4 linked regions of the Homo sapiens genome follow. The protein of the gene in region 1 interacts with the protein of each later gene in a biochemical or structural test. Each region holds a gene or a part of one and is shown in the gene's direction. Other genes may lie near its edges. The genes, in order: HIF1A, EGLN3, CREBBP and EP300.

Evidence for each region.
Region 2: the proteins of HIF1A (region 1) and EGLN3 form a complex in vitro, tested with the Homo sapiens proteins (5 studies listed by BioGRID, with this or other methods).
Region 3: the proteins of HIF1A (region 1) and CREBBP form a complex in vitro, tested with the Homo sapiens proteins (6 studies listed by BioGRID and IntAct, with this or other methods).
Region 4: the proteins of HIF1A (region 1) and EP300 form a complex in vitro, tested with the Homo sapiens proteins (25 studies listed by BioGRID and IntAct, with this or other methods).

The regions. Positions count from the first base shown.
Region 1 is NC_000014.9:61,697,318-61,706,037, forward strand, and holds part of HIF1A (hypoxia-inducible factor 1-alpha), read left to right. Parts: intron 1-394; exon of another isoform or gene 395-533; coding exon of another isoform or gene 534-637; intron 638-8,720.
Region 2 is NC_000014.9:33,923,039-33,928,106, reverse strand, and holds the end of EGLN3 (prolyl hydroxylase EGLN3), read left to right. Parts: intron 1-1,073; coding exon 1,074-1,147; intron 1,148-2,184; coding exon 2,185-2,216; 3' UTR 2,217-3,880; downstream 3,881-5,068. UniProt on the Homo sapiens protein: Prolyl hydroxylase that mediates hydroxylation of proline residues in target proteins, such as PKM, TELO2, ATF4 and HIF1A. Target proteins are preferentially recognized via a LXXLAP motif.
Region 3 is NC_000016.10:3,877,064-3,885,916, reverse strand, and holds the start of CREBBP (CREB-binding protein), read left to right. Parts: upstream 1-5,203; 5' UTR 5,204-6,000; coding exon 6,001-6,085; intron 6,086-8,853. UniProt on the Homo sapiens protein: Acetylates histones, giving a specific tag for transcriptional activation. Mediates acetylation of histone H3 at 'Lys-18' and 'Lys-27' (H3K18ac and H3K27ac, respectively).
Region 4 is NC_000022.11:41,151,576-41,160,193, forward strand, and holds part of EP300 (histone acetyltransferase p300), read left to right. Parts: intron 1-257; coding exon 258-437; intron 438-630; coding exon 631-775; intron 776-3,419; coding exon 3,420-3,538; intron 3,539-5,593; coding exon 5,594-5,833; intron 5,834-6,836; coding exon 6,837-6,925; intron 6,926-8,618. UniProt on the Homo sapiens protein: Functions as a histone acetyltransferase and regulates transcription via chromatin remodeling. Acetylates all four core histones in nucleosomes. Histone acetylation gives an epigenetic tag for transcriptional activation.

The DNA.
Region 1 (8,720 bases):
AGGTGATTACAGTGCTTTTGATGAAATGATAAAGCTGCTATATTGTAAACCTAAGGCAGATTACCTCTGTGTAGTGCCAGTTTTCTATCCTTATTATATATTGAATCATACTTAATACAATGCATTAAATTATGTACCACTTTTTTTATATACAGTATCGAACTCATTGTTTTGCCATTCATCCGTTCAGAATATCAGAAGCAGTTTTGAAACGAATTAATAAATTAGCTACTGTTCATCAGCCCCAATTCTAAATAAGCTCTTAGATTTTCCTCAGCCCATCTGTTACTTTCAAAATTTTCTCATTTGAAAACTTGGCAACCTTGGATTGGATGGATTCATATTTCTTAGTATAGAAGTTCTTGATATAACTGAAAAATTAAGTTAAACACTTAATAAGTGGTGGTTACTCAGCACTTTTAGATGCTGTTTATAATAGATGACCTTTTCTAACTAATTTACAGTTTTTTGAAAGATAACTGAGAGGTTGAGGGACGGAGATTTTCTTCAAGCAATTTTTTTTTTCATTTTAAATGAGCTCCCAATGTCGGAGTTTGGAAAACAAATTTGTCTTTTTAAAAGAAGGTCTAGGAAACTCAAAACCTGAAGAATTGGAAGAAATCAGAATAGAAAATGGGTATGGTTATGATACTGTAGATTTAACGCAGGACATTTCATGTTGTTCCTAGTTATAGGGGCTGAACTTATTTAATAGCACGTGCATTTTGATTTTTAGATTTTTAAGGGAATGTCAAGAGAGTAATGATTCTGTTTCAGGCTTCAGGCCAGACTCCTTCAGAGTTTTCCAAAACAAATAATTACTGAATCATTAAAGTAAAATTTCTGAGAATAGATATTCCTTAATTTCCTTCATTAACTTTGGCCATTAAAAGTCAAGAAGCTCTCTCATTTATTAGCAAACTTTTCTCCTTATGATTCTATTTTGATTGTCCTTTTGTTTGAGGAAGCAGCATATGGTGGTTAAGAGCATAGGATCTAGAGGCAGATACCTCTGAGTTAAGGGTCCCAGCCCTTCACTTGTGAGCTTGAGCAAGTTACTGAATGCCTCTGAGCCTCTTTCCTCCTTTTGAAATGATGATAAGAATAGCAGCCATCTGAGCAGTTATTGTAAAGGTTAAATGAGATAATGCTTGTGAAGCACTTAGCCCATTGCAGGAGTCTTGATGACACTGTGTACTTGAAAATAGATGTTACCTGTTAAAATTCTTGTTTAAACTTCCACAACTCTTAAAACTCTTTTTTGCTAGTCCTTCCAGCTGTTTCCTTTAGTTTCTTTTCTGTGTCTTCATGCATCTTTTCTATCTCCTGAAAGTGAAAAGACTAACATTGGATCCAGAGCTTGAAAAGCGTTTTTTTCCTGTTACAATGGGCAAAAGAGTACATCCTTGGGTTATATTGGCACCTAGTATCAGTTATTTTTCTTGAGCATCTGATCTGCTCTCTACTCTAGTGGAGGCCTCCTGCTTCACAATTGCTCACCCCTGTGTTTTCTCCCCAAATAGAATACTGAGTTTACTCTGGACTCTAGAGTCAAACATACACAGTATTCTAGTCTTACTGTTCATTTAAGCAAGATATGTGCAAGACACTGCATTCTTAGTACTGGCAGTAAGTTAAAACATTTTTCGTCTTGATGCCAAAGTTTAGACAATTTTATAAAAATTAACCTTTGTAAAAGATAATGAGTTGATAAAATATTCTCAGTAAAGCAGCTACGTGGTAGAAAAACTGTCCTTTGCTTATGAGTTTCTCCAGAGTTAAGACCATTGGGTTCCATCTGAAGGCAAGACTTCAAGCTTGTCTTACTGGTCTGTTTTGTGGCTCAATTTGTATGAAGTCTATGCACTCTTCCACACGTGTGTATTTACTGAACTATCGAGTTATTTTAGACTGAGAAAGTATTGGAGTTCATTCCTACGGTCCACTGCAGAGCACCTTGTGCAGTTTGGAGAATGTCAACTTTTCTACCTGTTAACTTCCATTGTCTTTACTTTTAACGCCATTGTCTGTGACTCTAATGGTGTCACGGCTCAGGGTTTAGATTTTGTGGTTACATTCTATTCTTGTATGTCAAGAGTGGTGTATAGAAAGCTGAGGGGGATTATTTAGTCTCTTGACTGATTTTTTTTTTTTTTCTGAAGAACTCAGTTTATTATGTTTGGTGGTGAAATAAAAATTGATGTGCATGGATGTTAAAGATTTGGGTTAAATTGTGTGTTCATAGATGCCTTCTCTTAGTATATAATTTTTTAAATTTAGATACTTAAAATACTGTATCCCTTTATCTAAGATTAACATAAGTCTGTTTCTTAACCAGGATAAAAAAATCTAAATTTAAATGTGATGTTGGATGAGTTTCCAATCAAGAAATTGATTTTTTAAACTTTGTGACTAGTTATCCAGTGGGTGGATTTTACCCAGTGTGTGTATGTGTTTTCTGCTTAACTCTGGAAGGTTAGAAAGAGAATTTGAAACTAAGACAAGCCAAGCTTCTTGTTGCTCAGTATTTTTGGTAAAAATATGGTCAGATTGTTTAAATTAACTATAGGCTTTGGAATTTTAAAAATAATTATATCTCTTGGTCTCTTGACACATCAAGAATTAACTGTTTTGTATATGCGTTGAGTATTAATGTTCATGTTTTCTGCAGTAGAAATTTATAAACCCTTATTTATTTGCCAGACATGATCCCTTTAGAGAAATCTAGTATCTAAAACCTGAATTTTTAAAACAAAATTTAAAATTTTTGTTTCATAAAAACAAAAATGTGATTACCTCATGGCTTTTTTCTTATAGCTTTTGATTGTTTTTTAAAATCGTAGTTCAAAAACATTAACCTAAAATTTACCATCTTAACCATTTCTAAGTACTGTTCAGTAGTGTTAAGTATATTCACATTGTGCCACTAACTTCCAGAACTTTTTCATCTTGCAAAGCTGAAATCTTACCCATTAAACAACTCCCAATTTCCCCCTCTCCTCAGCCTCTGGCAACCACCATTTTACTTTCTGTTTCTGCAAATTTAACTACTCTAGATGCCTCATATAAATAGAATTATAGGGTTTTAATATTTTTGTGATGGGCTTATTTCACTTTGTGTAATGTCCTCAAGGTTCATCCATGTTGTAGCATGTGTCAGAATTTCCTTCCTTTTTGAGTCTGAGCAATATTCCATTATATGTTCCATATTTTGTTTCTCCATTCATCCAGCAACGGACACTTGGGTTGCTTCCACATCTTGGTTATTGTGCTGCTCTGAACATGAGTCTGCAAATCTCTCTTTGAAGCTTTCACTTTTTTTGGATACATATCCAGAAGAGGGATGCTGGATCATATGGTAACCCTTTTTAATTTTCAAGGAACCACCATATTGTTTTCTATAGCAGTTGCACCAGTTTACATTCCCACCAACAGTGCACAAGGGTTCCTATTTCTCCACATCCTTCTAAACACTTGTTTTCTTTCTTTCCTTCCTTCTCTTCTCTTTCTTTCTTAGCCATCTAATGTGGCAAAGTGGTAGCCATCTAATATGTTGAAGTGATTGTTTTTAAGGGCTTGTTTGTGGATAATTAACCAGCTGAAAGCTAACTACAGTTTGCCAGTGGAAGCTTTAACTGAAAGGAGAGTAAGTACCTCTAAAAGGAGAATTCAATTTTTCTAGTGACTTAGATTTGTTATGCCAGTACTTTTTCACAGAAACACTTTTTGGGTAAAATAGTGTACACCTGTTCTATTGTTGATAAAGCCCAATTTAATTAGGAAATTTGTTCTCTAAGATTTAAAACAATAATTGAAATAATGTATTTTTATTAAAAACTGTTCCCAAGATGTTAGCTTTTAGCTGTTCTGGTGATCTCAACTGTTATTTATGAGTGTTTCTTTATTTTAAAATTTCACCTTAACCGGTTACAGTTTTAACCATAAAGATTATTTCAACATATGATTTTGAAAATTTATTATCTTGTAAATGGGAAAATGTAGTGATGGAACATAGTTTACTGTATGTAGTTCTTCACTTGTTTGAAAAGTCACAATATATTTAGGCAAATTAATTTAAAAGTGTCTAGTATTTAATATTGCAATTTTCACTCATTAAGGACAGGTCCCCCGTGTTTCCCCCTTTTTTTTTTCCAAGTAGTTTGGGAGGATTTGTTTTTCCAGCTGAAAAATACTATGGTTAAAAATAAGGTTTAAAGGCGAAAGTTGAAGTCTTTGAGGGTTGGGATACGTTTCTGTTCTTAAGAGTCTTGTAAATTCAGATGCTAAGCAAATTTCTTTAAAATGATTTCTACCCTCCCCCTTTCCATTATAAAACTGGATATGTTTCAGTGGACCAAATCCCAAGTAGGCTGAATTTGAAATTTGTGGGCTGGGCGCGGTGGCTCATGCTTGTAATCCCAGTACTTTGGGATGCCGAGGTGGGTGGATCACCTGAGGTCAGGAGTTCGAGACCAGCCTGGCCAACATGGTGAAACCCCATCTCTACTAAAAATACCAAAATTAGCCAGGCGTGGTGGCGGGTGCCTGTAATCCCAGCTACTTAGGAGGCTGAGGCAGGAGAATTGCTTGAACCTGGGAGGCGGAGGTTGCGGTGAGCCAAGATCGCCCCATTGCACTCCAGCCTGGGTGACAGAGCAAGACTGTGTTTCAAAAAAATTAAAAAAGAAATCTGTGGTGTGAATACTGGTACGTGGTGTACACAGTGAGCTCTTAATAAGTATTTGAATTAACAAATGAGACAATGATTGAATAATTGGATGAACAAAGAGAATGCAGGTTTTTAAAAGGTTTCTTTAGAAATATTGTCGGCCCGGCACGGTGGCTCCTGCCTGTAATCCCACCATTTTGGGAGGCCGGGGCAGGTGAATCACCTGAGGTCAGGAGTTCAAGACAAGCCTGACCAACTTGGAGAAACCCCGTCTCTACTAAAAATACAAAAAAAAAAAAAAAAAAATAGCAGGATGTGGTGGCACATGCCTGTAATCCCAGCTACTCGGAGGCTGAGGCAGGAGAATCGCTTGAACCTGGGAAGCAGAGGTTGCAGTGAGCCAAGATCGCGCCACTGCACTCCAGCCTGATGACAGTGTGAGATGCTGTCTCCAAAAAAAAAAAAAAAAAATTAAAAAGAATGTTTTAATTCTTTAGTTCCCTGTCTGAGATTCACTGATTGGTAAGAAGAAAGTTAAAGAATCTCCTTTGACTTTTTTTGATATAGATATTTAAATTCTATTACTTTATAGTAAGGTTGGGGTTTATTTTCTTTGCTTTATAATAGAAGAGCATTGATTATTCTCTTTGCTTTATAATAGAATACCATTTAAATAGGAGTTCCCTGAGTGTGTTTACAATCATTTGATCTGGCTAAACTATTTTAATGTTAATGAAATTTTAAAATTTTGGAGGAAAAAATTTAAAAACTACACAGGTGCACAAAGAAATAAAAATCACCTGCTTTTTCACTATGTAGAGACCATTGTCTACTATTTCTCAATTCTGTGTTACATCTGTATGTTAATAACTGTAGGATTAGGGACTGAGTACTGTTTTTAACCTGCTTTTAAAAAATTTACATCTACATTTTTTCCCATCTAAATAGTGAGGAAGAGTATCAGAATTTTGTAGGCTTGTGGTGATGGTTAAATTAGATAATATTAATGTTGGGTACTTAACATAATATATGGCTCTTAATACTCTCCAGATTTCAGATATAGTCTGTTTTACCATTACTGCCTTTTTATCAAACCTATTCTCAAAAAAGTGAGAAAAGTGCTGAGATTACAGGCGTGAGCCACCATGCCCGGCCTCATGGTTCTTTCTTAATAATAAATTAGAAGAAGTAGAATTACAGGGTCAAAAAGTATCCATTTTAAAGCTTTCAATGTAATTGCCTGTTTATCTTCTAGAAAGTTTGACCTAGTTGTATTTTAGAGTGTCATTTTCTTGAACTTTATCATCATTAAAGTTTTAAATTTGGAACACTGGCAATTTGATAAGTATATTAGGATTCTTCTTATTGCAAGTAGCAAAATACAACTCAATCTAGTTTAAGAGGGGAAAATGTAGTCATTGGCTAACACAATCTAATTTTGGTTTAAGAGACAAATCTAGAGTCTCAAATGATCTCAGAGTGTAATAATCCCTGACTTTTGTCTTGATATTACTTGGCTTGTATACCTTTGCTCTATTTGCATGCTGGCCTTACTCTGCCACTGACAGGCTGTCTGTATGGTGTGGAAGAGGACGGCTAGCATCCCCATACCTGCATCCATACAGTTTGTAATATAAAAAAAAAAAAAGTAAAAAAAACTCCCTCTCTCTTCTAGTGTCTATATATCAGTTTCCTAGAAGAAAACGTTTTGCCCTACTTGGCCATGTGAATGGAGTTCCCTGATTACATGAGTCAAATATGTCTTATTGTAGCATATTTGATGGTCTTCTTGTAGAATATTATCTTACTATACACAGAACTCTTGACCAGTAATTAATGGGCCATGAGTTTTTGTTGCAAGTCATTTGAATTCATATTCTATAGTTTTCTACCAAGTGTAGTCATTCTGCAAGCTGTTCTTGTCATGACTTTTGGGAAGTTGAGTATTTCTTCTATGGGTTAGGGTTTTCATCTCAAGAAAAAGATGATCCTTTTCTCTACTAAATATGTGTTAAGATCACACATTTTTCTAGATCGTTTAGCTCTACTGTGTGATCTTACACAAATTGCTTTATTGGGATGATAAGAATAATTGCCTTATAGGATTGTTATGAGAATGAAATGATACATCAACTCATATGAAACACTCAGAACAGCTCTTGGCACAAAGTAAGGGCTTAATTAAGTAGAAACTATCCATATATTCATAATATTATAGTATTGGTTAAGTTGTTTTCAACATTGTTTAGAATCGCTCAAGCCTTCTTTGTGATAATCTGACGAAGGCTATTCACCACCAGTGAGTAAATAATAGTGGCAGAATAGTTACTGATGCTTTTCCTTTACTTGGTTTTTTTTCCATAAACATCTGGCCTTTGCAGACTAAATACTGGTTTATGTATAGACATGTTATTCTAAAATAATTTTCCATAGTGGTAATACTAAAGGAAGAAAAATGTTCTCAAAGCTATTTATTTGGGATGTTAAAGGAGGGGGAAATTAAGAAAGCCTACATTTCCATGTCCTTTGTGTCCAGAATCTCATTAAATGTCTTTTAACTTGTTAGCAGAGGAAAGTTGGATATTGCCTGCCTTTGTAGCTAACATAGTTAAAATATTTAAATGGTTATAGTGTCAAACCAGTAGTCAAAGCCTTCACTGTGAATGGATGAAGGGATATTTTCTTGAATAATTTAAGTTGACTTATTTCAGTGGTTCAAAAAATTTCTTCAACGCTTAACCATGACTCAGGCACCTAACTATTATACTATGTCCTGTAACAGATTGTTGTGCATTCATTTATTCAACAGGTATTTGTGCAGCTAATTTATTGAGTACAGCATTGAATCGTTGATGGCTTAGGCCACAGTTGAACATTCCATTTTTTATGTTCATTCATTCATTCATAGCATATTCCATTTTTAAATTTTCAGTTCATTGCACTTTAAAGTTTGAGGTTCTTGCGAAGTACAGACTTTTGGGTTTAAGTTTTGTTATTTAATGTCAACCACCACAGGCGCATTGGCCAGTCTGCTTTTAGAATTTTCAGACATACATACACAAAACATTCTCACAAGACAATCTACTTATTTTCTTTTTTATTCCTGTGTTTCTTAACACAGGATTAATGTTCAGATCTCTTTTGGAGCAAAATAATCCTCTGAATTTTTGAGATGTACCCAGTGACCTCAGTCTGAGTATGTATACTGCATTAAAAAATGTAACCTTGTTCCTTTTAGTGGTCATTTGGTAACAGTTTGATCATAAACAAATGCAGCCTCAAACACAGAAGGCTTGAGGCAAGTATACAGAACTATGGAGAGATCATTTAGATGATGTAGAATATGCCTTTTCTTTTTTTACAATGCCACCAAAATGAAAACACGGTTTTAAAAATTCTCATAGAGTGTAACTTCAACACTGCTTTAACTCTATTAAACAAAGCACTGCCATGTTGTAATTCCTATTTATTACTCTCTGGAGTTGTATAAATTACCAAATCCGCCTTTTGTTTGATATCCTTTTCAAATATCTGAGGGTAGCTATCATGTTTCTTCCTTCTATTCTTAAAAAATAGTCCCAAATTTCTTGAATCTTTTAATTTAAAAATTATATATTGAGCATCTGATTTGTGGAAAGGCATAGGCCATATTAAAAATGGGGCTTCATATTAAAATGGGGAAAAGGGTGGAGATTCTCAGGTGGAATCTGAGATCTGCCACACACTAATAGTGTTACCTAACCCTTTTTAAAGACAAAGAAACAGGATCAGAAGGTCACTTTGGAAAATTTATTTGGTAATATTGGATAGGATGGATTAGTATAGTTGGAAAACAGAGACTCTTGCTTTAGGAGAGCTGCTCCTTTGTCATTTCCAGAATCTTAATCATGGTCAAGGTTTAGAGCTAAATATTTAATAGAAGAAGTCTTTAGGGTATGCTTTCTATTGTACACCCTTATTTCAATACATGTGTTTTTTCCTGTTATGTAAGTACTTTATTATTATTTATGCATCTTCTATTAAAGTTAAGCAAATAATTATTTCAAGGACA
Region 2 (5,068 bases), about 28 Mb from region 1:
CTTTGGTTATTCCCCAATCTCATGATGACTGGCCTTACAGGGAAAACATTAGCAAATGTTGATGAGAAGTCCCTTGAAAAAAACTCAAGTGCTATAGAAATTGTTAGCTACGGAAGTAGCTAACAATCATTACAAAATGAAACTTTAAAAAAAAACCAAGCATGAAATGGCTCCCATTACAGTCTATCCAATGAATGGGATAAAGCAAATTAGTGGGGATGCAGTAGAAAGCTCTGGGGCATTATTATTATTCAATTGCAATTTTGCCTCAATGTCCAAAACTAAAGAAAGCAAGCCAAGAGTTTTAAACATACTGTGATTTACATAAGTCGTTTTTCAAAGCTTCACTCAAATGTCATCTCTTCTCTATGTTCTCGCCACCAACTTGGGTCTCCCAGTCTTTAGCAGAATGACTCCCTTCTAGTCCTTTCTGTAGAGGCTATGTTTACCTGTTGCATTATTGCAAAATCACCTGTCTCCCCTACTTGGAGCCTGAGATCGCAGAGGAAGATCTGATCACAGGGTCATTTGAATTCCTAATGCCCAAGATAATTTCTGGCACATACCTGGAATTCCTTATGCATTTTATTACATTGAAATAGAATTAAAACCAGAGAAGTTAATTTTAAATTAAAATCAGCGTAGACAGGCCGGGCATGGTGGCTCACACCTGCAATCCCAGCACTTTGGGAGGCCGAGGTGGGCAGGTCAAGAGATCGAGACCATCCTGGCCAACATGGTGAAACCCCATCTCTACTAAAAATTTAAAAATTAGCTGGGTGTGGTAGCGTGCACCTGTAGTCCCAGCTACTTGGGAAGCTGAGGCAGGAGAATCGCTTGAACCTGGGAAGTGGAGGTTGCAGTGAGCCGAGATCACGCCTCTGCCTGGCAACAGAGCAAGACTCCATCTCAAAAAATAAATAAATAAATAAATAAATAAATAAATAAATAAATCAGGGTAGACTTCTAATAATAGAGAAAACTTTAAAACTTTTAATGTGAGATTTATAGGACATTTGTGTTTCTAGTAGTACCATTAAATCTCTTTCCTTATATCTGCTTATCTTTCACAGATATGCTATGACTGTCTGGTACTTTGATGCTGAAGAAAGGGCAGAAGCCAAAAAGAAATTCAGGAATTTAACTAGTATGTGTTTGATAATTTTCTGTGACTTTTGATCAAGTTAATCCTTGACTTTTATTCAATTTTATGTAGTTTTAAACATGTTCTGTTCAATCTGTTACGGCTTAGCTTTATATATAATGACATCTTGATGGGTTTTATCCTGAAACCTTGGCCTTAGGGCTCTTAGAAAAATCAGAAACAATGCAAGGGGCTTCCCCTGAGAATGCCCACTGAATGTATGATGGTTTATGATAGATGGGAAATAGTTAACTTTTTCCTATTAATGTTAACCAGTCAAATGTAACATTAAATTTTGCCCATGATTTTTGGCATATTGCAAAGGAAATATAATGGAACCCAGTTATGATGGCAAAATTTATTATATTGGGTGAGACTGTGACTCTCAGTATAACAGCAGGGCTCATGTAATATAAACTGAATATAACAGCACTACTCCTATCCCTTCCAACCAGTATTAGAAGGCAGCATTTCCCAAAATACGTTGCATTAAAACACAAATCCTGCCAATTTGGTAAATTCCTGGTCCCAAAAATGTGGGAAATGTTGCATGCTGTATGCCTGTCTTAAAAAGAGTCACATTGCTCACTAGCATATTAAATTAAGGCGCTAAGAGATCCTGCAGTAAGGAAACATATATAATATTGCCTAGCCCATAACCCATTTGGACTGTATACCTCTCAAATACCAAAGTGGTCTCCAAATTGCACCCAGGAAATCTCAGTTTGTTTTCTCTTCCAGATGGCCTACACTGCTTAACTCTGATATGTGAGTGAGGCTACACTTCATACAACTTATGCTCAGCATTAGCCCAAGAGGTGCCAATGCTGGATGTAAACCCAAAGTTCCTCCACAGTCTGTGAGGCATATGGGAAAGATCCCATTGCAAAGTCAAGAGAGAATCCTTTGGCAGAGCTCTATTAGGAGGCTTATATAAGATGGGAAGTGTTTACTGGAGGCTTTTTGGTGACATTTGTGACATAAAACTCATCAGAGCTGACTCCATACCCTCTTTATTCTCCTTTCTGTCCCCAACCCAGGGAAAACTGAATCTGCCCTCACTGAAGACTGACCGTGCTCTGAAATCTGCTGGCCTTGTTCATTTTAGTAACGGTTCCTGAATTCTCTTAAATTCTTTGAGATCCAAAGATGGCCTCTTCAGTGACAACAATCTCCCTGCTACTTCTTGCATCCTTCACATCCCTGTCTTGTGTGTGGTACTTCATGTTTTCTTGCCAAGACTGTGTTGATCTTCAGATACTCTCTTTGCCAGATGAAGTTACTTGCTAACTCCAGAAATTCCTGCAGACATCCTACTCGGCCAGCGGTTTACCTGATAGATTCGGTAATACTATCAAGAGAAGAGCCTAGGAGCACAGCGAGGGAATGAACCTTACTTGCACTTTATGTATACTTCCTGATTTGAAAGGAGGAGGTTTGAAAAGAAAAAAATGGAGGTGGTAGATGCCACAGAGAGGCATCACGGAAGCCTTAACAGCAGGAAACAGAGAAATTTGTGTCATCTGAACAATTTCCAGATGTTCTTAATCCAGGGCTGTTGGGGTTTCTGGAGAATTATCACAACCTAATGACATTAATACCTCTAGAAAGGGCTGCTGTCATAGTGAACAATTTATAAGTGTCCCATGGGGCAGACACTCCTTTTTTCCCAGTCCTGCAACCTGGATTTTCTGCCTCAGCCCCATTTTGCTGAAAATAATGACTTTCTGAATAAAGATGGCAACACAATTTTTTCTCCATTTTCAGTTCTTACCTGGGAACCTAATTCCCCAGAAGCTAAAAAACTAGACATTAGTTGTTTTGGTTGCTTTGTTGGAATGGAATTTAAATTTAAATGAAAGGAAAAATATATCCCTGGTAGTTTTGTGTTAACCACTGATAACTGTGGAAAGAGCTAGGTCTACTGATATACAATAAACATGTGTGCATCTTGAACAATTTGAGAGGGGAGGTGGAGTTGGAAATGTGGGTGTTCCTGTTTTTTTTTTTTTTTTTTTTTTAGTTTTCCTTTTTAATGAGCTCACCCTTTAACACAAAAAAAGCAAGGTGATGTATTTTAAAAAAGGAAGTGGAAATAAAAAAATCTCAAAGCTATTTGAGTTCTCGTCTGTCCCTAGCAGTCTTTCTTCAGCTCACTTGGCTCTCTAGATCCACTGTGGTTGGCAGTATGACCAGAATCATGGAATTTGCTAGAACTGTGGAAGCTTCTACTCCTGCAGTAAGCACAGATCGCACTGCCTCAATAACTTGGTATTGAGCACGTATTTTGCAAAAGCTACTTTTCCTAGTTTTCAGTATTACTTTCATGTTTTAAAAATCCCTTTAATTTCTTGCTTGAAAATCCCATGAACATTAAAGAGCCAGAAATATTTTCCTTTGTTATGTACGGATATATATATATATAGTCTTCCAAGATAGAAGTTTACTTTTTCCTCTTCTGGTTTTGGAAAATTTCCAGATAAGACATGTCACCATTAATTCTCAACGACTGCTCTATTTTGTTGTACGGTAATAGTTATCACCTTCTAAATTACTATGTAATTTATTCACTTATTATGTTTATTGTCTTGTATCCTTTCTCTGGAGTGTAAGCACAATGAAGACAGGAATTTTGTATATTTTTAACCAATGCAACATACTCTCAGCACCTAAAATAGTGCCGGGAACATAGTAAGGGCTCAGTAAATACTTGTTGAATAAACTCAGTCTCCTACATTAGCATTCTAATGGTTTGATTAATATATTCCATCTTTGGCAGGAAGGGCTTGCTAGAATTTTTACACACATCTTTTTAACATTGTTGACTTACACATTTACGCTAAGAGTTTTAGAACGCTTTGGTCATAGTGTTGCTTCGTATTTGTATACCCATGAATAGGTCATTCACTGACCACTATGAATCTGAAAATTGAACAAATTATATTTTGCCCTTCCATATCCTAGAAACAACATTAGTAAAATAACATTAGTCTCAGATAGGACAGAGTGAATTCCCCTTTCGAACAATCTTGAAAAATTTCAATAGGAAAGAAAGGACGAAGTTTATTAGGAATTTTGTATTCTGTAAAATTGTAGTTATATATTTTTCATGATTTCTAATGTCATAAGAATGATAGTGACAATATTCTGAAGGAGGATCATATAGTTCCAAAAGCATGTCTTGTATTTTTCATTTTAGTCAATATGCCAAAAGATCTGACCTCCAAGGCTTTGTTTATTCCTTCCAGACAAAGGTCCTATAAGCTAACAAACCACTTTTTTTATGTGCACTGATTTTTTTTTTTTTTTTTTTTTAATGACTCAATTTGAGTCCTGGAAAATTAAGCTGGAAAATACAACTTTAATGCTAGGAGTCTGTTTTTTGCTCCTCTCTTTGACAGCCCATTTAGGGGAGGAGTTAGCCCTGCTAAAGAAACATTATTTGGCAAATAATCTGATCAATTTCATTTATATTCCCGGCAATGAAATATTAAGAGCCTACCTCACCATTATGTCACTTATATAGTCCAGAGTTCTTGGTAGGAGATTAAATTTTGAACCAAAGATCCAATTTCATGGAAATAAAAAGTCTTACCTAAGTGCATTAGATAGATCCTTAGTAGAGTAGTTAATACCATTAAATGCTGGACTGTCAGAATCATGAATTATCCATTCAGACATGATTTTGTTTTTCTTTAACTCAGGTTTTTTAGAGGCTGGGTCGTCCTAATTTCTTTTGGCCATTCAGTACTGAAATTTCCTGTGTTTTAGAAAGCAATGATGGGAAATGCCATGCTGGGCCAGCAGTTTATATAAGATAGGAGTTTGGATATGTCAGGTACTTATATATTTGATCGACTACGAGGACAAGCAGAAGGGATATTCTTAGTAAAGTTATTTTTTAAAACGATACAACATTGACTT
Region 3 (8,853 bases), on another chromosome or scaffold:
TACTGGGTATACACCCAAAGGACTATAAATCATGCTGCTATAAAGACACATGCACACATATGTTTACTGCGGCTTTATTCACAACAGCAAAGACTTGGAACCAACCCAAATGTCCAACAATGATACACTGGATTAAGAAAATGTGGCACATATACACCATGGAATACTATGCAGCCATAAAAAATGATGAGTTCATGTCCTTTGTAGGGACATGGATGAAATTGGAAATCATCATTCTCAGTAAACTATCGCAAGAACAAAAAACCAAACGCCGCATATTCTCACTCATAGGTGGGAATTGAACAATGAGAACACAAGGACACAGGAAGGGGAACATCACACTCTGGGGACTGTTGTGGGGTGGGAGGAGGGGGGAGGGATAGCATTAGGAGATATACCTAACGCTAAATGACGAGTAAATGGGTGCAGCACACCAGCATGGCACATGTATAGATATGTAACTAACCTGCACATTGTGCACATGTACCCTAACACTTAAAGTATAATTAAAAAAAAAAAAAAGCAACAGCAAGTCCCCCACGAGAGGGGCGGGTGCAGCCTCCCATGTGGACGGCAGAGAGAGGAGAGGGGCCTCTCACCCTTGAGCGCCTGCTTCCCACTGCCCCAAATAGCAGCTATATGGTGCCTTGGTGTGCCAGGGACCCTGTGCACCCTCCATCTCATCTCCACCGCACCTCAACTGTCTCAGCAGGTGAGGAGGTATTTGTTTTTTTTTTTCTTTTTTTGTTTTTTTGAGATGGAGTTTTGCTCCTGTTACCGAGGCTAGAGTGCAATGGTGCAATCTTGGCTCACCACAACCTCCGCCTCCTGGGTTCAGGCAATTATCCTGCCTCAGCCTCCCGAGTAGCTGGGATTACAGGCATGCACCTCCAAGGCCGGCTAATTTTGTATTTTTAGTAGAGATGGAGTTTCTCCATGTTGGTCAGGCAGGTCTCGAACTCCCAACCTCAGGTGATCTGCCCGCCTTGGCCTCCTAAAGTGCTGGGATTACAGGTGTGAGCCACCACACCTGGCCGAGGTATTTGTTTTCAAAACAGCTAAGAAAAAGCAGTAGGTTTGGGACTTGAACCTAGCTCTGTCTGGATCCCTCCACACCACCAGACCACATTCTGCCTTCTGTCCACCAGGAACTGGCTGGAATCCTGCCTTCCTGGGACTACTCCCCCAGGCCTCTGCCCCCCAACCCCGGGACTCCCACCCCTGGGGGATCAGTTATTATGATTTTGTGCTATTCTGACTTGGATTCTCTGCTTATCTTTTCAATGTGTGTCCTGTTTGTGTTTTTCTCCCCAATGCTGTTCTGCATCGCTTGAAGGCAAAGTCCAAACCTGATGCTATCTTTTAATCTATTTAAGCCTAGAAAGGGACAATCAATATCAAATTGCAACAATTCCATTTCTTTTTTTTTTTTTTTTTTTTTTTGTGAGACGAAGTTTCATTCTTGTTGCCCAGGCTGGAGTGCGATCTTGGCTCACTGCAACCTCCGCCTCCCGGGTTCAAGCAATTCTGCCTCAGCCTCCCAAGTAGCTGGGATTACAGGTGCCCCCCCACCATGCCCAGCCATTTATTTGTACTTTTAGTAGAGATAGGGTTTCACCTTATTGGCCAGGCTGGTCTCGAACTCCTGACCTCAAGTGATCCACTCACCTTAGCCTCCCAAAGTGCTAGGATTACAGGCGTGAGCCGCCGCATCCAGCCAACAATTCCAATTCCATTTCTTTCTCTTTCTTTTCTTTTCTTTTCTTTTTTTTTAGACAGTATCTCACTGTTGCCCAGACTGGAGTGCAGTGGTTTGATCATAGCTCACTGCAGCCTCAACCTCCTGAGCTCCAGTGATCCTATTGCCTTGGTCTCCCAGGCAGCTGGGACTACAGGTGCATGCCACCACGCCCAGTTCACTTTTTAACATTTTGTTGTAGAGATGAGGGTCTCACTGTTGCCCAGGCTGGTCTCAAACTCCTGGGCTCTAGAGATCCTTCCACCTCGGCCTCCTAAAGTGCCGGGATTACAGGCATGAGCCATCATGCCCAGTCCTTTGATTGTTTTTTAATGTGGTATCTGAGACTGGAGAGGGTGAGGTTTGTGGAAAGAGCAGGAAGCCTTAGGTGTGCACCGGAGTGAAGCCCCTTCGTGGCTGGGTGGCTTGTCCTCCTTTGTGCCTTATTTCTTCATCTGTGAAATGAGGACAATTTTTCCTTCCAGGATTGTAGGAAGTGCTATCCATGGGAGGCATGGCAGAGCGGCCTGGTATCCCTAAGGCACTCACTTGTTGAAGGTGATCCCCAGCTAAGTGAGTGCAGGCAGGAGCCACGCTTCCCTCCTTGCTATTCCCCCATCAGTGTCTGAGCTCAGGGTTCTTTGAGTCAGACTGAAGGGAGAAGAAATCGAAAGGAAAGAAAAAACAGGTATCAGTGAATACCAGAATTGATCAAAATGATACAGGTGAGAACAATGAGACAGAAAAAGGGACTGCAGAGCCGGTATATTTTGAGGGTGGAACATGGTGAGACAGGAAGACTAGGGTCTTTGGAGAGTGAGGACATGGGTTCCAGGCCCAGACTTGCCATGTCCGGGTTATTTACTTCTGAGTCCTTGCGACTGAGTTCCCTTGCTTTCCTCTGTAAAATGGAAACCTGTCAGGGAATGGCTCAAGCTCCTGTGCCCACTTCTGTGTAAACCACTCACCAATGGACCCCTGGGGGGCTGCATGGTGTCTCCACTGCCCCAAGGCAGGCCCTAAGACCTCTAGGTGGCTGGACACCTTGTCCCGTTTGAAGAGTGGCCTGGAGCCACCTCAGGCTGGGGCCCACCCTTTTCAGTGGCCTGAAGGCCTCTAGGACTCAGAGCACCTGACACAGCTCATCACTCATTCAGTTTTACAAACCTACTTCTTCTTGCAGAGCACTGTTTCTGTGACTAAGACACCATCTTTGCCCCGAAGGAGCTCACAGACCCTTGGTGAGACGGACACCCAGAGCATTCAGATACAGGGTGTGGCCTGCCCTGTGCCACTGATACACTTCTTGCCATTCCTGTGCAAACTGACTTCTTGAATACTTCCATTTATGGCTTCCAGGGTGTGCTATTTTAACTCCTTGAATATATGGGGATCTCTTTATGTTTGGCCAAGGGGATTAGCACAGTCTCAATGCCCTTGGGATTCTCAAGAGCTATTTGATGCATAAGTAAAAACATGAACTAATTCGGGGGCAGTGGAGGCGGGGAAGATGGGGCAGGATGTGTTATGTGTTCTCTCACAGAGCCCAGAAGTGATATGGGAGCCGAGGAGTGGGCTAGGAGGGCTTCCTGGAGTAGGTGACATTTGAACTGGGTTCTGGAGGATGAGTTAGAATTTGCCAGGCATGTCTTCTCAGCACAGGGACCAGCATTTGAAAAAAAAAAAAAAAAAGCCTGAATGATGTGAACTGCCTACTGGCCAAGTGGGTGTAGGATGATGATGGTGAAGTGAGCCATGTAAAGTAGAAGAGACAGATTCAAGAGCGGTATCACGGCCCAAGATTTTGAGCAGTACAGGTAAACAGAGAAAAGCAGAACGATCACTCAATCTTGACACTCAAGGACAGTCACCATATGTACATACACCTATGTTTTTAAGAGAATTCATACGTGTTCTTTTTTAAAGAAAGACTATGTAGTGTTTTCTTTTTCTATGTCTGGGATTTTGTTTTGTTTTGTTTTGTTTTTGAGACGGAGTTTCACTCTTGTCGCCCAGGATGGAGTGCAATGGCGAGATCCCGGCTTACTGGCCTCCCCAGTTCAAGTGATTCTCGCATCTCAGCCTCCCGAGTAGCTGGGATTACAGGCGCACGCCGCCACGCCCAGCTAATGTTTGTATTTTTGGTAGAGATGGGGTTTCACCATGTTGGCCAGGCTGGTCTTGAACTCCTGACCTCAGGTGATCTGCCACCGCGCCTGGCCAGGGAGTTGTTTTAAACAGATTTTCTCCCTCTCTTTTCGGGATGTTAACTCTGGTGCTGCGTGGGGAGCAACGTGGAGAGCAAAGAACACTTAAGTGAGTAGCTGCCACCATAGCCACCGGGACAGTGCGGGAGGAGCAGTCTCCCAGGTAAAGACCGTGGGTAGAGGGGCGCGTGGCGGGTGAGAGGGAGGAGTCCGCGCTGACTCACGGGTTTCTGGCTTAGGAAACAGTGGAGCTGCTGATACCTTTATGAGGAAGCCGGGCAAGTTTGGAGGGGCAGATAACTAACTGGGATGGGAACACCTCGGGTATTCGTAGAAGTGTCCCGCGGGCTGTGGTCTCGCGTGGGGGACTCCCCAGGCCCGCACCCCTGTCTGGGGCACCTGCGAGGCGCCAGGCAAGTTGCCTGGGGCGGGGAGTGCGGCCTGAGCGTCCAGGCTTAAGCCCCGATGCGCGGGCCCTTCTCCGCCCAGGCCGGCCCTCGCCACCCCGCTCTCACAGGTGAGGGTGTCTGCCCTGCCGCCTTGGGATGCGAACAGGCGTGAGGCCCCCTCACTCCCTAGTGTCACGAGGTAGGGCGGGACCCGAATCCCGGCCCTGCCACTTCCTGCCTCGACCACTTTGGAGCAGTTGCTCGCCCCCCGCCTCAGTTTCCCCATCCGCCCACCTCGTCGGCAGGACCCAAGGGCGGTCTGTAACCTGCAGAGGCCATTCCACTTCCCTGGCCGGCGGCGAAGGCTAGTGGCGCGGCCTGGGCTGGGGTCGCCCCGACCGTTCCCGACCGACGCCACCTAGGAGGGTCTGGGGAAGGGGACGCGAGGAGCTGGGAACACGCAGCGCCGCCCCAGCGGGACGGGCGGGCCCGGGCTGGCGTCGAATCCGCGCCCGAGAGCCCAGCCCGCGGCCAGGCCGCCGCTCCCGGAGCCCGCTGGGGCCCGGAGCCCCGGCCCTCTACGCCTGGTCGCCATCAGAACAAAAGCTGTGGCTCAGCCCGGAGCCCAGGCGCCCCGCAGGCCTGGCCCGCGCCGGGCCGCCAGCTTCCCTACGCTTGGCGGCCGCGCCTTCAGCCCTTCGGCCCGAGCACGCTCGGCTCTTTCCGCCACGGCCGGCGCAGGTGGAGGGGGCGGGGCGGGGGCCGTGCGTGGTGACGCCGCGGGGGGGTGACGCACCGGCGTGCCCCGCCCCCACCCCCTCCCCGTTCAGGCTCTGGAAAGAGAAGAAAAAAAACTTTCTTTTTTTTTTAATTGAGGAATCAACAGCCGCCATCTTGTCGCGGACCCGACCGGGGCTTCGAGCGCGATCTACTCGGCCCCGCCGGTCCCGGGCCCCACAACCGCCCGCGCACCCCGCTCCGCCCGGCCGGCCCGCTCCGCCCGGCCCTCGGCGCCCGCCCCGGCGGCCCCGCTCGCCTCTCGGCTCGGCCTCCCGGAGCCCGGCGGCGGCGGCGGCGGCAGCGGCGGCGGCGGCGGCGGAACGGGGGGTGGGGGGGCCGCGGCGGCGGCGGCGACCCCGCTCGGCGCATTGTTTTTCCTCACGGCGGCGGCGGCGGCGGGCCGCGGGCCGGGAGCGGAGCCCGGAGCCCCCTCGTCGTCGGGCCGCGAGCGAATTCATTAAGTGGGGCGCGGGGGGGGAGCGAGGCGGCGGCGGCGGCGGCACCATGTTCTCGGGGACTGCCTGAGCCGCCCGGCCGGGCGCCGTCGCTGCCAGCCGGGCCCGGGGGGGCGGCCGGGCCGCCGGGGCGCCCCCACCGCGGAGTGTCGCGCTCGGGAGGCGGGCAGGGGATGAGGGGGCCGCGGCCGGCGGCGGCGGCGGCGGCCGGGGGCGGGCGGTGAGCGCTGCGGGGCGCTGTTGCTGTGGCTGAGATTTGGCCGCCGCCTCCCCCACCCGGCCTGCGCCCTCCCTCTCCCTCGGCGCCCGCCCGCCCGCTCGCGGCCCGCGCTCGCTCCTCTCCCTCGCAGCCGGCAGGGCCCCCGACCCCCGTCCGGGCCCTCGCCGGCCCGGCCGCCCGTGCCCGGGGCTGTTTTCGCGAGCAGGTGAAAATGGCTGAGAACTTGCTGGACGGACCGCCCAACCCCAAAAGAGCCAAACTCAGCTCGCCCGGTTTCTCGGCGAATGACAGCACAGGTGAGGAGGGGGTCCGGGGCGGCGGGGGCCCGGGGCGCGCTGTCACCCCCACCTGAAAGAGAGCGTCCGGGGGTCGTGGTCGCGGATACCGATCGAGCCGGGAGCTCGGAGCAGGCCCCGCAGCCCGTTCCCCTCGCCCCGCGCGGGAGGGTGGAAGTTCGTCGCAGGACTGTCACTGGGCCCGAGTTGGTCAGCACACGCCCGGTGCACTCGGCCTCCCCGCACCCGATCAGCCCTCCTCGCGGGGACCCTAGTGGCACTCCAGGAGGGAAGAAGTAAAGTGCAGCGTGTGGGTTTGTTTGGTAATGTCCTACGCATCCATCCGCGGCCGTGTCCACACGCGTGGCCGTCCAGAGGAATGACAGCGGAGGGTACCTTTGATGCTTAGAGAAAGCAAGATCGCGGCCAAAGGTAGGGCAGTGTGTTTTCTGGATTGGCGACACATTGACCAGGCTGCATTCAGAGGACACTCACAGCAGCCGCCAGCTTGCGAGTTAGAACCGAAGTTTCTTGGAATGAGTGAGTTCCTTGGAAAGATGCTTAGTGCTTATTTTCAAAACTCCTTGTTTTGTGTGTGTGTGTGTGTGTGTGTGTGTGCGCGCGTGTGTGTTTTTAGTCAACTAGTCATTCCATTTTTCAAAACCCAAACTTCGTTAGCAAGATGTCATGAAAGTTGCTGTGGTGTGTTTCATTTCCATGTATAACTTCAAAAGAAAGTTAAACAGCAGGTTTAAGTTCATTTGGGCTGCAATCTCCATTTGAGTTTGTGTTGCTTTCACAGTGTAGATGTACAAAGAATTAAGGAATGTAGGAATTCCAATTTTTCAAAAAAATGGAGCAGGATACTGAATAAATCATCTTTTTGTTTGTTTCCTTTCATTAAACGGCTTCCCTGGAAACTTTCTTAAGTTATCATAGCTGCTTAAGAGAAGTATTTAGTTTTCTATTAATTCAGTAATTCTGGGTCCCACTGCGCTGGTTCATGGTAACATGAACTAGTTGTATTTCCTCTTTTAGAGCTCTCTCCTTTGCCGCAAAAACTTGTGTGCCGCTGCGAACAATTCCATCTCCAGCGCAGCTTGCATTTCTCCAGTAGTCTTGCAGTGGTAGCATCTGAAAATCAGTTTCTAATGAATGAGTCCAAATTGAATTACATCGCTGCCTTCAGATTTGCACTAGACACAGCTGTTCAACTTGTGGAAATAGTTCTGTGACCGACCACTAGCATATTAAAAAAAACTGCTATTGCTGTTGAAACAAAACCTGAATTTTGTGGCTTAAGTTTGAATACAATTCCTGGAATCAAGTTATGATAAGCGACGTTTAATATTAATGTAGAAGTGAAAAGCGATTTTTAAAGATCAATCATAAGGAGATTCTTATCTAGTTAAAATTTGTTAAACAGTGGGGAGGAGTAAATGATGCTCATGGTATATAAAAATCACTAATGCTTTTCTTTTTAGCTGATAAAAGTTGAGTTTGACGTTAATCTTATAAAATGAACTTATTGAAGTGAGAAATTTGGAAACAGTAGTTTAAATGCCGTTGTACTGCAAAACAGATCTCCGTTGCTTCATTAATCTTGCTGTGTTTGAGTAGTCTTCAGTTCTGTGAGACGTAGGTCATACGTGGCGAGTTCAGCTTTGAAGCTTGTCTTCTGAAACTGGTAACCTGGATGGCTTTGTAGCTTTGCTGTTGTTGAATGAATTTGTTGTAGATTTTGTCTTAAAAAGGGGGACAATTAGTAACACAAGACTTAACAAAAAGGCATGTCCTTATATGTACATCCAGCTGTTTCCAAGATGGAGCCCAAAGGTTAGCTTTTTCCATAGTAGTGTCCATTATTGGATGATCAGATGCTTAATAAGTTGATCAGAAAGGATTTTCCACACTTAACCACCTTTTCCCCCTTCCTTTACAATTTTGATCCTTGTAAGGCACAGGGGCTCTTTCGTGGGACCAAAAGTCAGCTTTAAATGGCTCCGATTTAATCCAAAGTAGAAAGTCAACATCATACTTAAGTTGGGTCATGTGTTACACATTCATCACCATCACACTATTGTGAAAGGGTCTGTTAGTATGGGGGACCAAGGAAGGGCTCATTATCAAGCACATTAAACAAGGGGCTGCTGGGCGCCATGGCTCATGCCTGTAATCCCAGCACTTTGGGAGGCGGAGGCTGGTGGATCAACTTCAGGTCAGGAGTTCAAGACCAGCCTGGCCAACATGGGGAAACCCCATCTGTACTCAAAATACAAAAACATAGCCAGGCATGGTGACATGCACCTGTAATTCCAGCTACTTGAGAGGCTGAGGCATGACAATTGCTTGAACTCGGGAGGCAGAGGTTGCAGTGAGCCAAGATCGCGCCACTGCACTCCAGCCTGGGTAATGGAGTGAGACGCTGTCTCCAAAAGAAACGAGGGACACTTTGTCTGTTGTAACTGCTCCACTAAGAAATTGAGTAATGAGATGGACAGAGATCTTAGGGATGTATTTTAAACAAATAAATGGCTTGAGTTTTTACATTAAATACATTCAAAAACTGAAGGCATTTGGTTAGGTGGGACAGACCTGAGAATAACATTCTTGAGGAACTCAATCTTATTTTAGTGACGGGATGTGTCTCTGAGGCTCCCAGGGGAAAATTGGGCCTAGTGGAGCAGGGTGTGTGCCCGGTGCATGTGATCAAATTTGAGGGAGGGGACCTCTGTCTAGGAGCTGAGGGGTTGAAAGGAGGAGGAGCCCTTGGCAGCCTGAGAAACAGG
Region 4 (8,618 bases), on another chromosome or scaffold:
AATGATAGTTATCAATGAAATAGTTGCTGGTTCTTTGATGTACAATCAGCCAACCAGTATTTACAAGTCTTAATTCTCCTGTTCTTAAGCATAATTAAGGGAGGTGAAATGGGCAGAGCAAATGAAAGCACCATGAATAAATATAAGCCAAGAAATAGGTGGCTAATTCTGCTATCCTGTTGCTTACCTTACATTCTGATTGTATCGTTGGCAGACTCTGCGTGTGTCTCACCTACTTCCCTTTTTTTTCTGCCCAGCTTTCCCAGCCAGCTGTAAGCATTGAAGGACAGGTATCAAATCCTCCATCTACTAGTAGCACAGAAGTGAATTCTCAGGCCATTGCTGAGAAGCAGCCTTCCCAGGAAGTGAAGATGGAGGCCAAAATGGAAGTGGATCAACCAGAACCAGCAGATACTCAGCCGGAGGATATTTCAGAGGTGAGAGTAGGGCAATTACTGTTTGATTTGGTTAGGACCTCAGTATAGGAACCCAAGTTTTAAAAAATATTGCAGAAAAATATTTTGATAATTAGATCTCATGGCATAGATTTTGCATGAGAAAGGGTGTTCAGATTACTGATTCCCAACTAGATATCTTTGGAATACTAAAAATTCTTACGTTTTCTTTTAGTCTAAAGTGGAAGACTGTAAAATGGAATCTACCGAAACAGAAGAGAGAAGCACTGAGTTAAAAACTGAAATAAAAGAGGAGGAAGACCAGCCAAGTACTTCAGCTACCCAGTCATCTCCGGCTCCAGGACAGTCAAAGAAAAAGAGTGAGTCTCTGAAGCCATTCGTTCTGGAGGTAGCTGAAGAAACCAAAGACCCAGGGCAGAATTGCGGTCATGCCTCTTGGGCCTCAGAAGTTGCCATTATTGTGATTTCATTAACCTGGAAGCCCTGGGCCTGGTCTCTTCATTGTTACTAATAATTTTTCTTTCTTTTTTTTTTTTTTAATATTCACTTGCAGCAACCAATGAGTTAAGTCATTCCCCTCATTTCTTCAGGGTTCCCTGTGTTAGTACACCCTAAAAATTGTCTCATTTTTCAGGAGAGAGAAATGTTTGTAAATAGCCTTGACTAAAATGCAGGAAAGAATAGCAATAGTAATAGCATTTGTCATTCACCTGCTGTGTGCTAAGTATCCACATTGTCTCATTTAATAATTTCTTTCTTTCTTTTTCTTTTCTTTTTTGTTTGGAATCGGATTCTCACTTTTGTTGTTCAGGCTGGAGTGCAGTGGCGGGATCTGAGCTCACTGCAACCTCCACCTCCCAGGTTCAAGCGATTCTCCTGCCTCAGCCTCCCGAGTATCTGGGACTGCATGCGCATGCCACCATGCCCGTCTAATTTTTGTATTTTTAGTAGAGACAGGATTTCACCGTGTTGGCCAGGATGGTCTCGATCTCTTGACCTGGTGATCCACCCGCTTCGAGCTCCCAAAGTGCTGGGATTACAGGCATGAGCTACCACACCCGGCCTCATTTAATAATTTCACAACAGCTCTGAGGTTATTGGCCTGAAGCTTAGCAAAGTTAAGTAACTTTCCACAGGTTACTCAGCTGACCCTACTGCCTGGGCCAGGAAGCAGACCCAGGCAGTCTGAGGCAGAGTGCTCAAATCCAGCCATTCCAACAAGTGTTAATTGACTATTTTAGGACTAGAACTTTTGTGGCTCTAGTGATCTGCAAAAGGCACCAGGTAGGACATACCTGAGGAGTGAGTCTGCTGGCTCTTACAGATGATATATATTGAAAAGTGTTCCATTAATACAATGTGTTGTAAAATGTTGGGATTAAAAAATTATTTTCATTTTAAAAATAAGACTTGTATATATTGAGGTGTTTTAATATGGGCTGTAACAAACCCAGTCTTACTATTGGCAATCTCTCTTTAAAATGTGTGTTCCCTCATGCCTGTAATCCCACCGCTTTGGGAGGCCGAGCGGGCAGATCACTTGAGGTCAGGAGTTCAAGACCAGCCTGGCCAATATGGTGAAACTCTGTCTCTACTAAAAGTACAAAAGTTAGCCGGGTGTGGTGGCTCTCACCCGTAGTCCCATCTACTTGGGAGGCTGAGGCAGAAGAATCACTTGAACCCGGGAGATGGAAGGAGGTTGCAGTGAGCCAAGATGGCGCCACTGCACTCCAGCCTGAGTGACAGAGAGTAATTGTCTCAAACAAATAAATAAAATAAAATGTCTAATTTCACAAGTTTATTCAAATAGTCCTTATTTTTAGCACAGCTAAATATGAGTGACAAGCATCTTCGTAGTCTGGTTTCCCCCCACTCCATGGCAACCCCCCAGAGGTGAAAATTATCTGAAGTAACAAATATACTCTACCGATGATGAAATTTTTTTTGCCAATTAAGAAAAAATAAGGCCCTTGCTGAAATTGAAAGCTTTTTAAATCACTGGCTTCTCAAAGAACTGTTTGATTCCATTTGGGACACACCAACAAATTTTTCCGGACTTTTTGGGAAATATCATTGAGAACACATTTGAACTTAATTTGATCAACTAAGTCTATTATTTTAGCAATACCATTTTTGTTCTCTCTTCTTTTAAACTTAAACCTAACATTTGTCATTAAAATAGTACATGTCTCTTTTTCTTTGGCTCTAAAATACCAAGCATTTGAACGAAGGAGTCTTCTCTTCTGTGCCCCTGACTCCTTGTAGTATAAGACAATACCTGATCTAGTCTAGTTTCTGACTTGTTAAATACTGATGTCATGAAGAAAGACTTTTCTGTTCTTGCTTGACTGCATCTCCCTCTTAACACGAGTATCTTGTGCACTCTTTTTTTTTTTTTTTTTTTTTTTGAGATGGGGCCTCATTCTGTTGCCTAGGCTGGAGTGCAGTGGCGCCATCTCGGCTCACTGCAACATCTGCCTCCCGAGTTCAAGCAGTTCTCTTGCCTCAAGCCTCCTGAGTAGCTGAGACTAGCATGCCACCATGTCCGACTAATTTTTTATATTTTTAGTAGAGACGAGGTTTCACCATGTTGGCCAGGCTGAAACTTCTGACCTCAAAGTGATCTGCCCACCTCAGCCTCCACCGTGCCTGGTCCCATGGACTCTTATTTGGCAAAGTCTCTTCATAAATTTTTAGAAGCCTTTGGATTCTGCTTCTAATTGACCGAGTCTGTCTTCACTGACTTTGTGACTGAAAAGTTAAGCTGAGGGTGAAGAGTGTTTTAAGGTGATAAGACACAATGTTTTTTAGGAGCTGTCTGAAACAAAGCGGGGCTTAGAATCTAGAATCAGTGATTGAGCCTGTAGTGATATTTCCATGGGGACAGAGTGGTTAATTTTGTTATTGATTCTTGAGATGCTTTTAGAGCTTCAGGCTGAATGATTTTTTAAAGTTCTTCTGCTTAATTGGTAACTAATTTCAAATGCACTTTTTTTTTTTAAGTTTTCAAACCAGAAGAACTACGACAGGCACTGATGCCAACTTTGGAGGCACTTTACCGTCAGGATCCAGAATCCCTTCCCTTTCGTCAACCTGTGGACCCTCAGCTTTTAGGAATCCCTGTAAGTATTTGGTGGTACTTTTGATTTTATTTTTTAATTTGATAACAGCTTTATTGAGAGATAATTCACATTCCAAACAGTATAGCCACTCATTTCAAATTTGTAATTCAGTGATTTTTTTTTTTTCCCCCTGAGACAGGGTCTTATTCTGGTTGCCTAGGCTGGAGTGCAGTGGCACGATCGTGGCTCACTACTGTCTCCACCTCCCGGGCTCAGGTGATTCTCCCACCTCAGCATCCTGAGTAGCTGGGATAACTACATTCATGTGCCACCTCACCTGGCTAGTTTTTTGTATTTTTTAGTAGAGACGGGGTTTCGCCATGTTGCCCAGGCTGGTCTTGAACGCCTGGACTCAAGCAATAGGCCCATCTCAGCCTCCCAGAGTGCTGGAATTACAGGTGTGAGCCACTGGGCCTGGCCTAATTCAGGGAGTTTTAGTATATTCACAGAGTTGTGCATGACACTTTCATTTTCATCATCTGAAAAAAATCCTTTACCATTAACAGTCACTCACTATTTTCTCCCATAGCACCCCAATCCTAGACATCACCAGACTGCATTCTGTCTCTGGATTTGTCTGTTCTACATGTTTCATTAAATTGGAACATACAGTATGTGATTCTTTGTGCCAGGACGTTCCTTAGCATAATGTTTTCAAGGTTCATCCATGTTGTAGCATGAATCAGTAGCACATACCTATTTATAGCCCAATAATATTCCATTATTTTTCTTTACCTGTTGATGAGTTGATAGACATTTAGGTTGTTTACACGTTTTGACTATTAAGATAGGACTGTAGTGAACATTGTGTGGATTTAAGTTTTTATTTCTCCTTGGTATTTACCTAGGAGTGGAATTCCTGGGTTATATAGTTTGTTTACTTTTTTGTTGTTGTTATTTGTTTTTTGTTTTTTTGAGATGGAGTTTCACTCTTGTTGCCCAGGCTAGAGTGCAATGGCGCAATCTCAGTTCACCTCAACCTCCCCCTCCCGGGTTCAAGCAGTTCTCCTACCTCTCAGCCTCCCGAGTAGCTGGGATTACAGGCATGTGCCACCATGCCCGGCTAATTTTGTATTTTTAGTAGAGATGGGGTTTCTGTATGTTGGTCAGGCTGGTCTCAAACTCCCAACCTCAGATGATCCACCCACCTCGGCCTCCCAGAATGCCCAGATTACAGGCGTGAGCCACCGCACCCGGCCACTTTCGTTGTTTCAAGAGCAATAGGTCATAGCAGAAAAAAGGACCGTGGTTAGCTTTGTTTTTAAAGTTGCCTCCATATACTAGGCTGCTGGCAGATTTCATTTGGTGGTTTTAAACTGTTACTTGGCCGGGCACGGTGGCTAACGCCTGTAATCCCAACACTTTTGGAGGCCAAGGCAGGCAGATCACTTGAGTTCAGGAGTTGGAGACCAGCCTCACCAACATGGTGAAACCCCATCTCTACTAAAAATATAAAAAGTAACTGGGCGTGGTGGTGCACGCCTGTAATCCTGGCTACTTGGGAGGCTGAGGCAGGTGAATAGTTTGAACGACCCTGGGAGGCAGAGGTTGCACTGAGCCAAGATTGCACCACTGCACTCCAGCCTGGGCAACATGTTGACAGAGACTCCATCTCAAAGGTCAAGTGCTTCCAGGGGCAAAAGCCTTTTAGGACTTTTCCTCTCTTGTATCTTGCTGTGATTTCAGATGGAACATTTTAAGTTCTGTGGGCTTAGTTTCCTCATTGTACACCCCTTCTAGTACTAAAATTTTAAATGTCTTTGACTTTACTGATCTCACATGTACTTTCATAAAGAACCTGAAGTTGCTTCAGTAGAATATCAGCCTGATGTCTAGAAAGTCCATAGTAGTTCTGTTTCTCTGCCCTTTGAGTAGTTTAATATCTCTGTAAACTAATATTTAAAGAAGTGATGGACATCAGTCACCTCTTGGGGAATATAGACAGGCCAGAAACTAAAACACTGCCTGGAAAATTAACAATGATAATGGATGATACTCCATCTCCCGTAAAAATAGTGAGACTTGAGTAATGTTTGATGTCACTTGTCTTTCTAGGATTACTTTGATATTGTGAAGAGCCCCATGGATCTTTCTACCATTAAGAGGAAGTTAGACACTGGACAGTATCAGGAGCCCTGGCAGTATGTCGATGATATTTGGCTTATGTTCAATAATGCCTGGTTATATAACCGGAAAACATCACGGGTATACAAATACTGCTCCAAGCTCTCTGAGGTCTTTGAACAAGAAATTGACCCAGTGATGCAAAGCCTTGGATACTGTTGTGGCAGAAAGGTAAGAAATGTGTTTCAGATTTGACTTTAACTTTTCTGGGATACCTAGAATAATATAGTGGTGACTGGGATAAGAGAATATCCTGCTTCTGGCTTTGACATGGCTTTTTTTTTTTTTTTTTTTTTTCCTTTTTGACAGGGTCTTATTCTCCCAGGCTGGAGTGCAGTGGTGAGGTCATAGCTCACTGCAGCTTCAACCTCCTGGGCTCAAGCAATTCTCCCACCTCAGCCTCCTGAGCAGCTGGGACTACAGCCGTACGCCACCATGCCTGGCTGATTTTTTAAATTTGTTTTGTAGAAACAGGGTCTCATGATGTTGCTCAGGCTAGTCTTGAACTCCTGGGCTCAAGCAGTCCTCCTGCCTCGGCCTCCCAAAGTGCTGGAATTACAGTCATGAGCCACCTCTCCCAGCCAACACAGTCTTTCTCTTACTGTGTGCCACAGTAGTAATATCTCTTAATATGAAATGGGCTTTCTTTAAAGGCATTTTTTCAGAGTGGCAATTGTATGGAAAAGTTGACTAATTAAATAATCAACAGACTGTTAACTCATCTGGAGTAGGGGCATTCTTATATTCACCTGTGGGTGCAGATTCCTCAGCATGTGCTGGCTTTCCTGTACATACCAATTCACATTATTGGTTTTTTGTTTTTAAAATAAGACTATGGTCTTGCTGTGTTGCCTAAGCTGGTCTGGAACTCTTGGGCTCACGCAGTCTTCCCACCTCAGCTTCTGAGCACTGCAGGCATGTGCCACCCTGCCCAGCTATTCCTGTTAGGTTCTTTGGTAAAGTGATGGAAGGATATGACTGCTAAGCCTACCTCAGCGTTTTGAAATAATGTGGTAGTAAACTGAGAATGATTTTCAGGAACTGAATTAGCCCATCATTATTAACATAAATGAGAACTAAGACACCACTGACTTCTGTTTCTGACTTGCCATTCTTACTGTTCTAGCTTGTCCTTAAGGCCTCTGTGCTTTTTAACAAATGGTTTCTTTTGCAGTTGGAGTTCTCTCCACAGACACTGTGTTGCTACGGCAAACAGTTGTGCACAATACCTCGTGATGCCACTTATTACAGTTACCAGAACAGGTAAGCTTGGCCAGGTGTGGACCATGGTCCATGTGTCCACATGTCCAGGGAGTGCATGCGGATGGGCCAGCACACATACAGTCATGGTTCATGTGTATCTTGCTTGAAGACAGCTGTATAGCACAAGTTCTGTTTTTTGCCTTCTGCCTTTGTTTGCAGAACAATAAAATTTTCTATCAGAGTAGCCTTGCATCAGTTACCTGGGTTCCTCCCAAGAGCTTGAGAAGTTAAGCAACTTTGTGAGTTGTTGGCCTAGATGGGTCTATATCCCAGGCCCCACTTCTCTTTCTACTGTGTGTTTGTTGATCACCACAGCCTGAGGCAAAACTGAGAAGATTTTTAAACTTTTAACTGAAACTCGCTAGACAGCTTTTTGGAAATATTTCCTTTTTAGATGAGGCCTATCCCTAAGTAGTTGTTATTAGAATATATGAAAACAGGATTCTGGAGTCTTTTCTTTGCCTCATATTAAGCAAATTAAAAGGAAAACCTCACATAGCTCTCTGTACCTTACTTTTCCCAACCCAGCCTTGTATGTGACAGAGGATGATTTGAGTCTAATAAACGAGGCACCTCTGCCTAATTTTCTCCTGCCCAATCAATGGCTGTAATCACATAAATCTCATTCACTAATCTATCTTAACCACAATTTGTCTCCTGTTTTCAGTGATCAGCTACAAGTATAGCTTGCATTGGGTGTTTATTTGGGGCTCTGATACAATAATAACAAGGCTGGATGATATTAATACCCTTTATTTGTTTGTTAATACCAAATCCATGGTGTTGGTTTTTGCTGAACTTGTGTGTTGCAGATGCATTTCTAGCTTTGAAAAGTCACTTAAACTTTTTCTTTTATTTACAAAAAGTTAGGCGTGCTTCTAATGCTTTGTAGACCTAATGCTTTGATTTTGCAGTGAGTAAAAATCTAGCTCTTTACTCATTTGAAACCTAGAAAAGGTGGGACTCAAGTTGTTATAAGTACCTTATGTTTAAAAAAGCAAGTAACTGGACATGAAACTTTTCTCATGTTTACTAAAACAGTAGTCTAAAGTGTTTATCTTTGCACCAAGCCATCTTTAATCAGGTACCTGCACACATCATTTCCTTTTGAAATGTATCACTTGATGGCTGTAGTCAGTATTTAACTGCTTGTGCAGGCTTTTCAATAAACAGTTTTTTTTCTTTCTTTGTTGAGACAGGGTCTCACTCTGTCACTCAGGCTGGAGTGCAGTGGCGCAATCTTAGCTCACTGCAACCTCTGCCTCCCGGGTTCAAGCGATTCTCCTGCCTCAGCCTTCCAAATAGTTGGGATTACAGGTGTGTGCCACCATGCCTTGCTTATTTTTGTATTTTTAGTAGAGACAGGGTTTCAGCATGTTGGCCAGGCTGGTCTCGATCTCCTGACCTCAGATGATCCACCCTCTCAGCCTTCCAAAGTGCTAGGATTATAGGTATGAGCCACCACGCCTGGCAATGGTTGTTTTAGATTATTGTTTTCTGCAGTTGTATCTATAGTGGGCTTTTGGGGTGGGGGGTGGGGGTCTGTGGTTTTTTGTTTTGTAAGTGGGAAGAGGTGTGATTCCTGTATTTAGGTAATGAGTAGCAGTTCTTCTCTCCCTGGTATATTTATCCTTCTTCCTCCTTTTGATTATTTACATCACATAGCGTTAATTGCTGAAATGAAAGGATATGG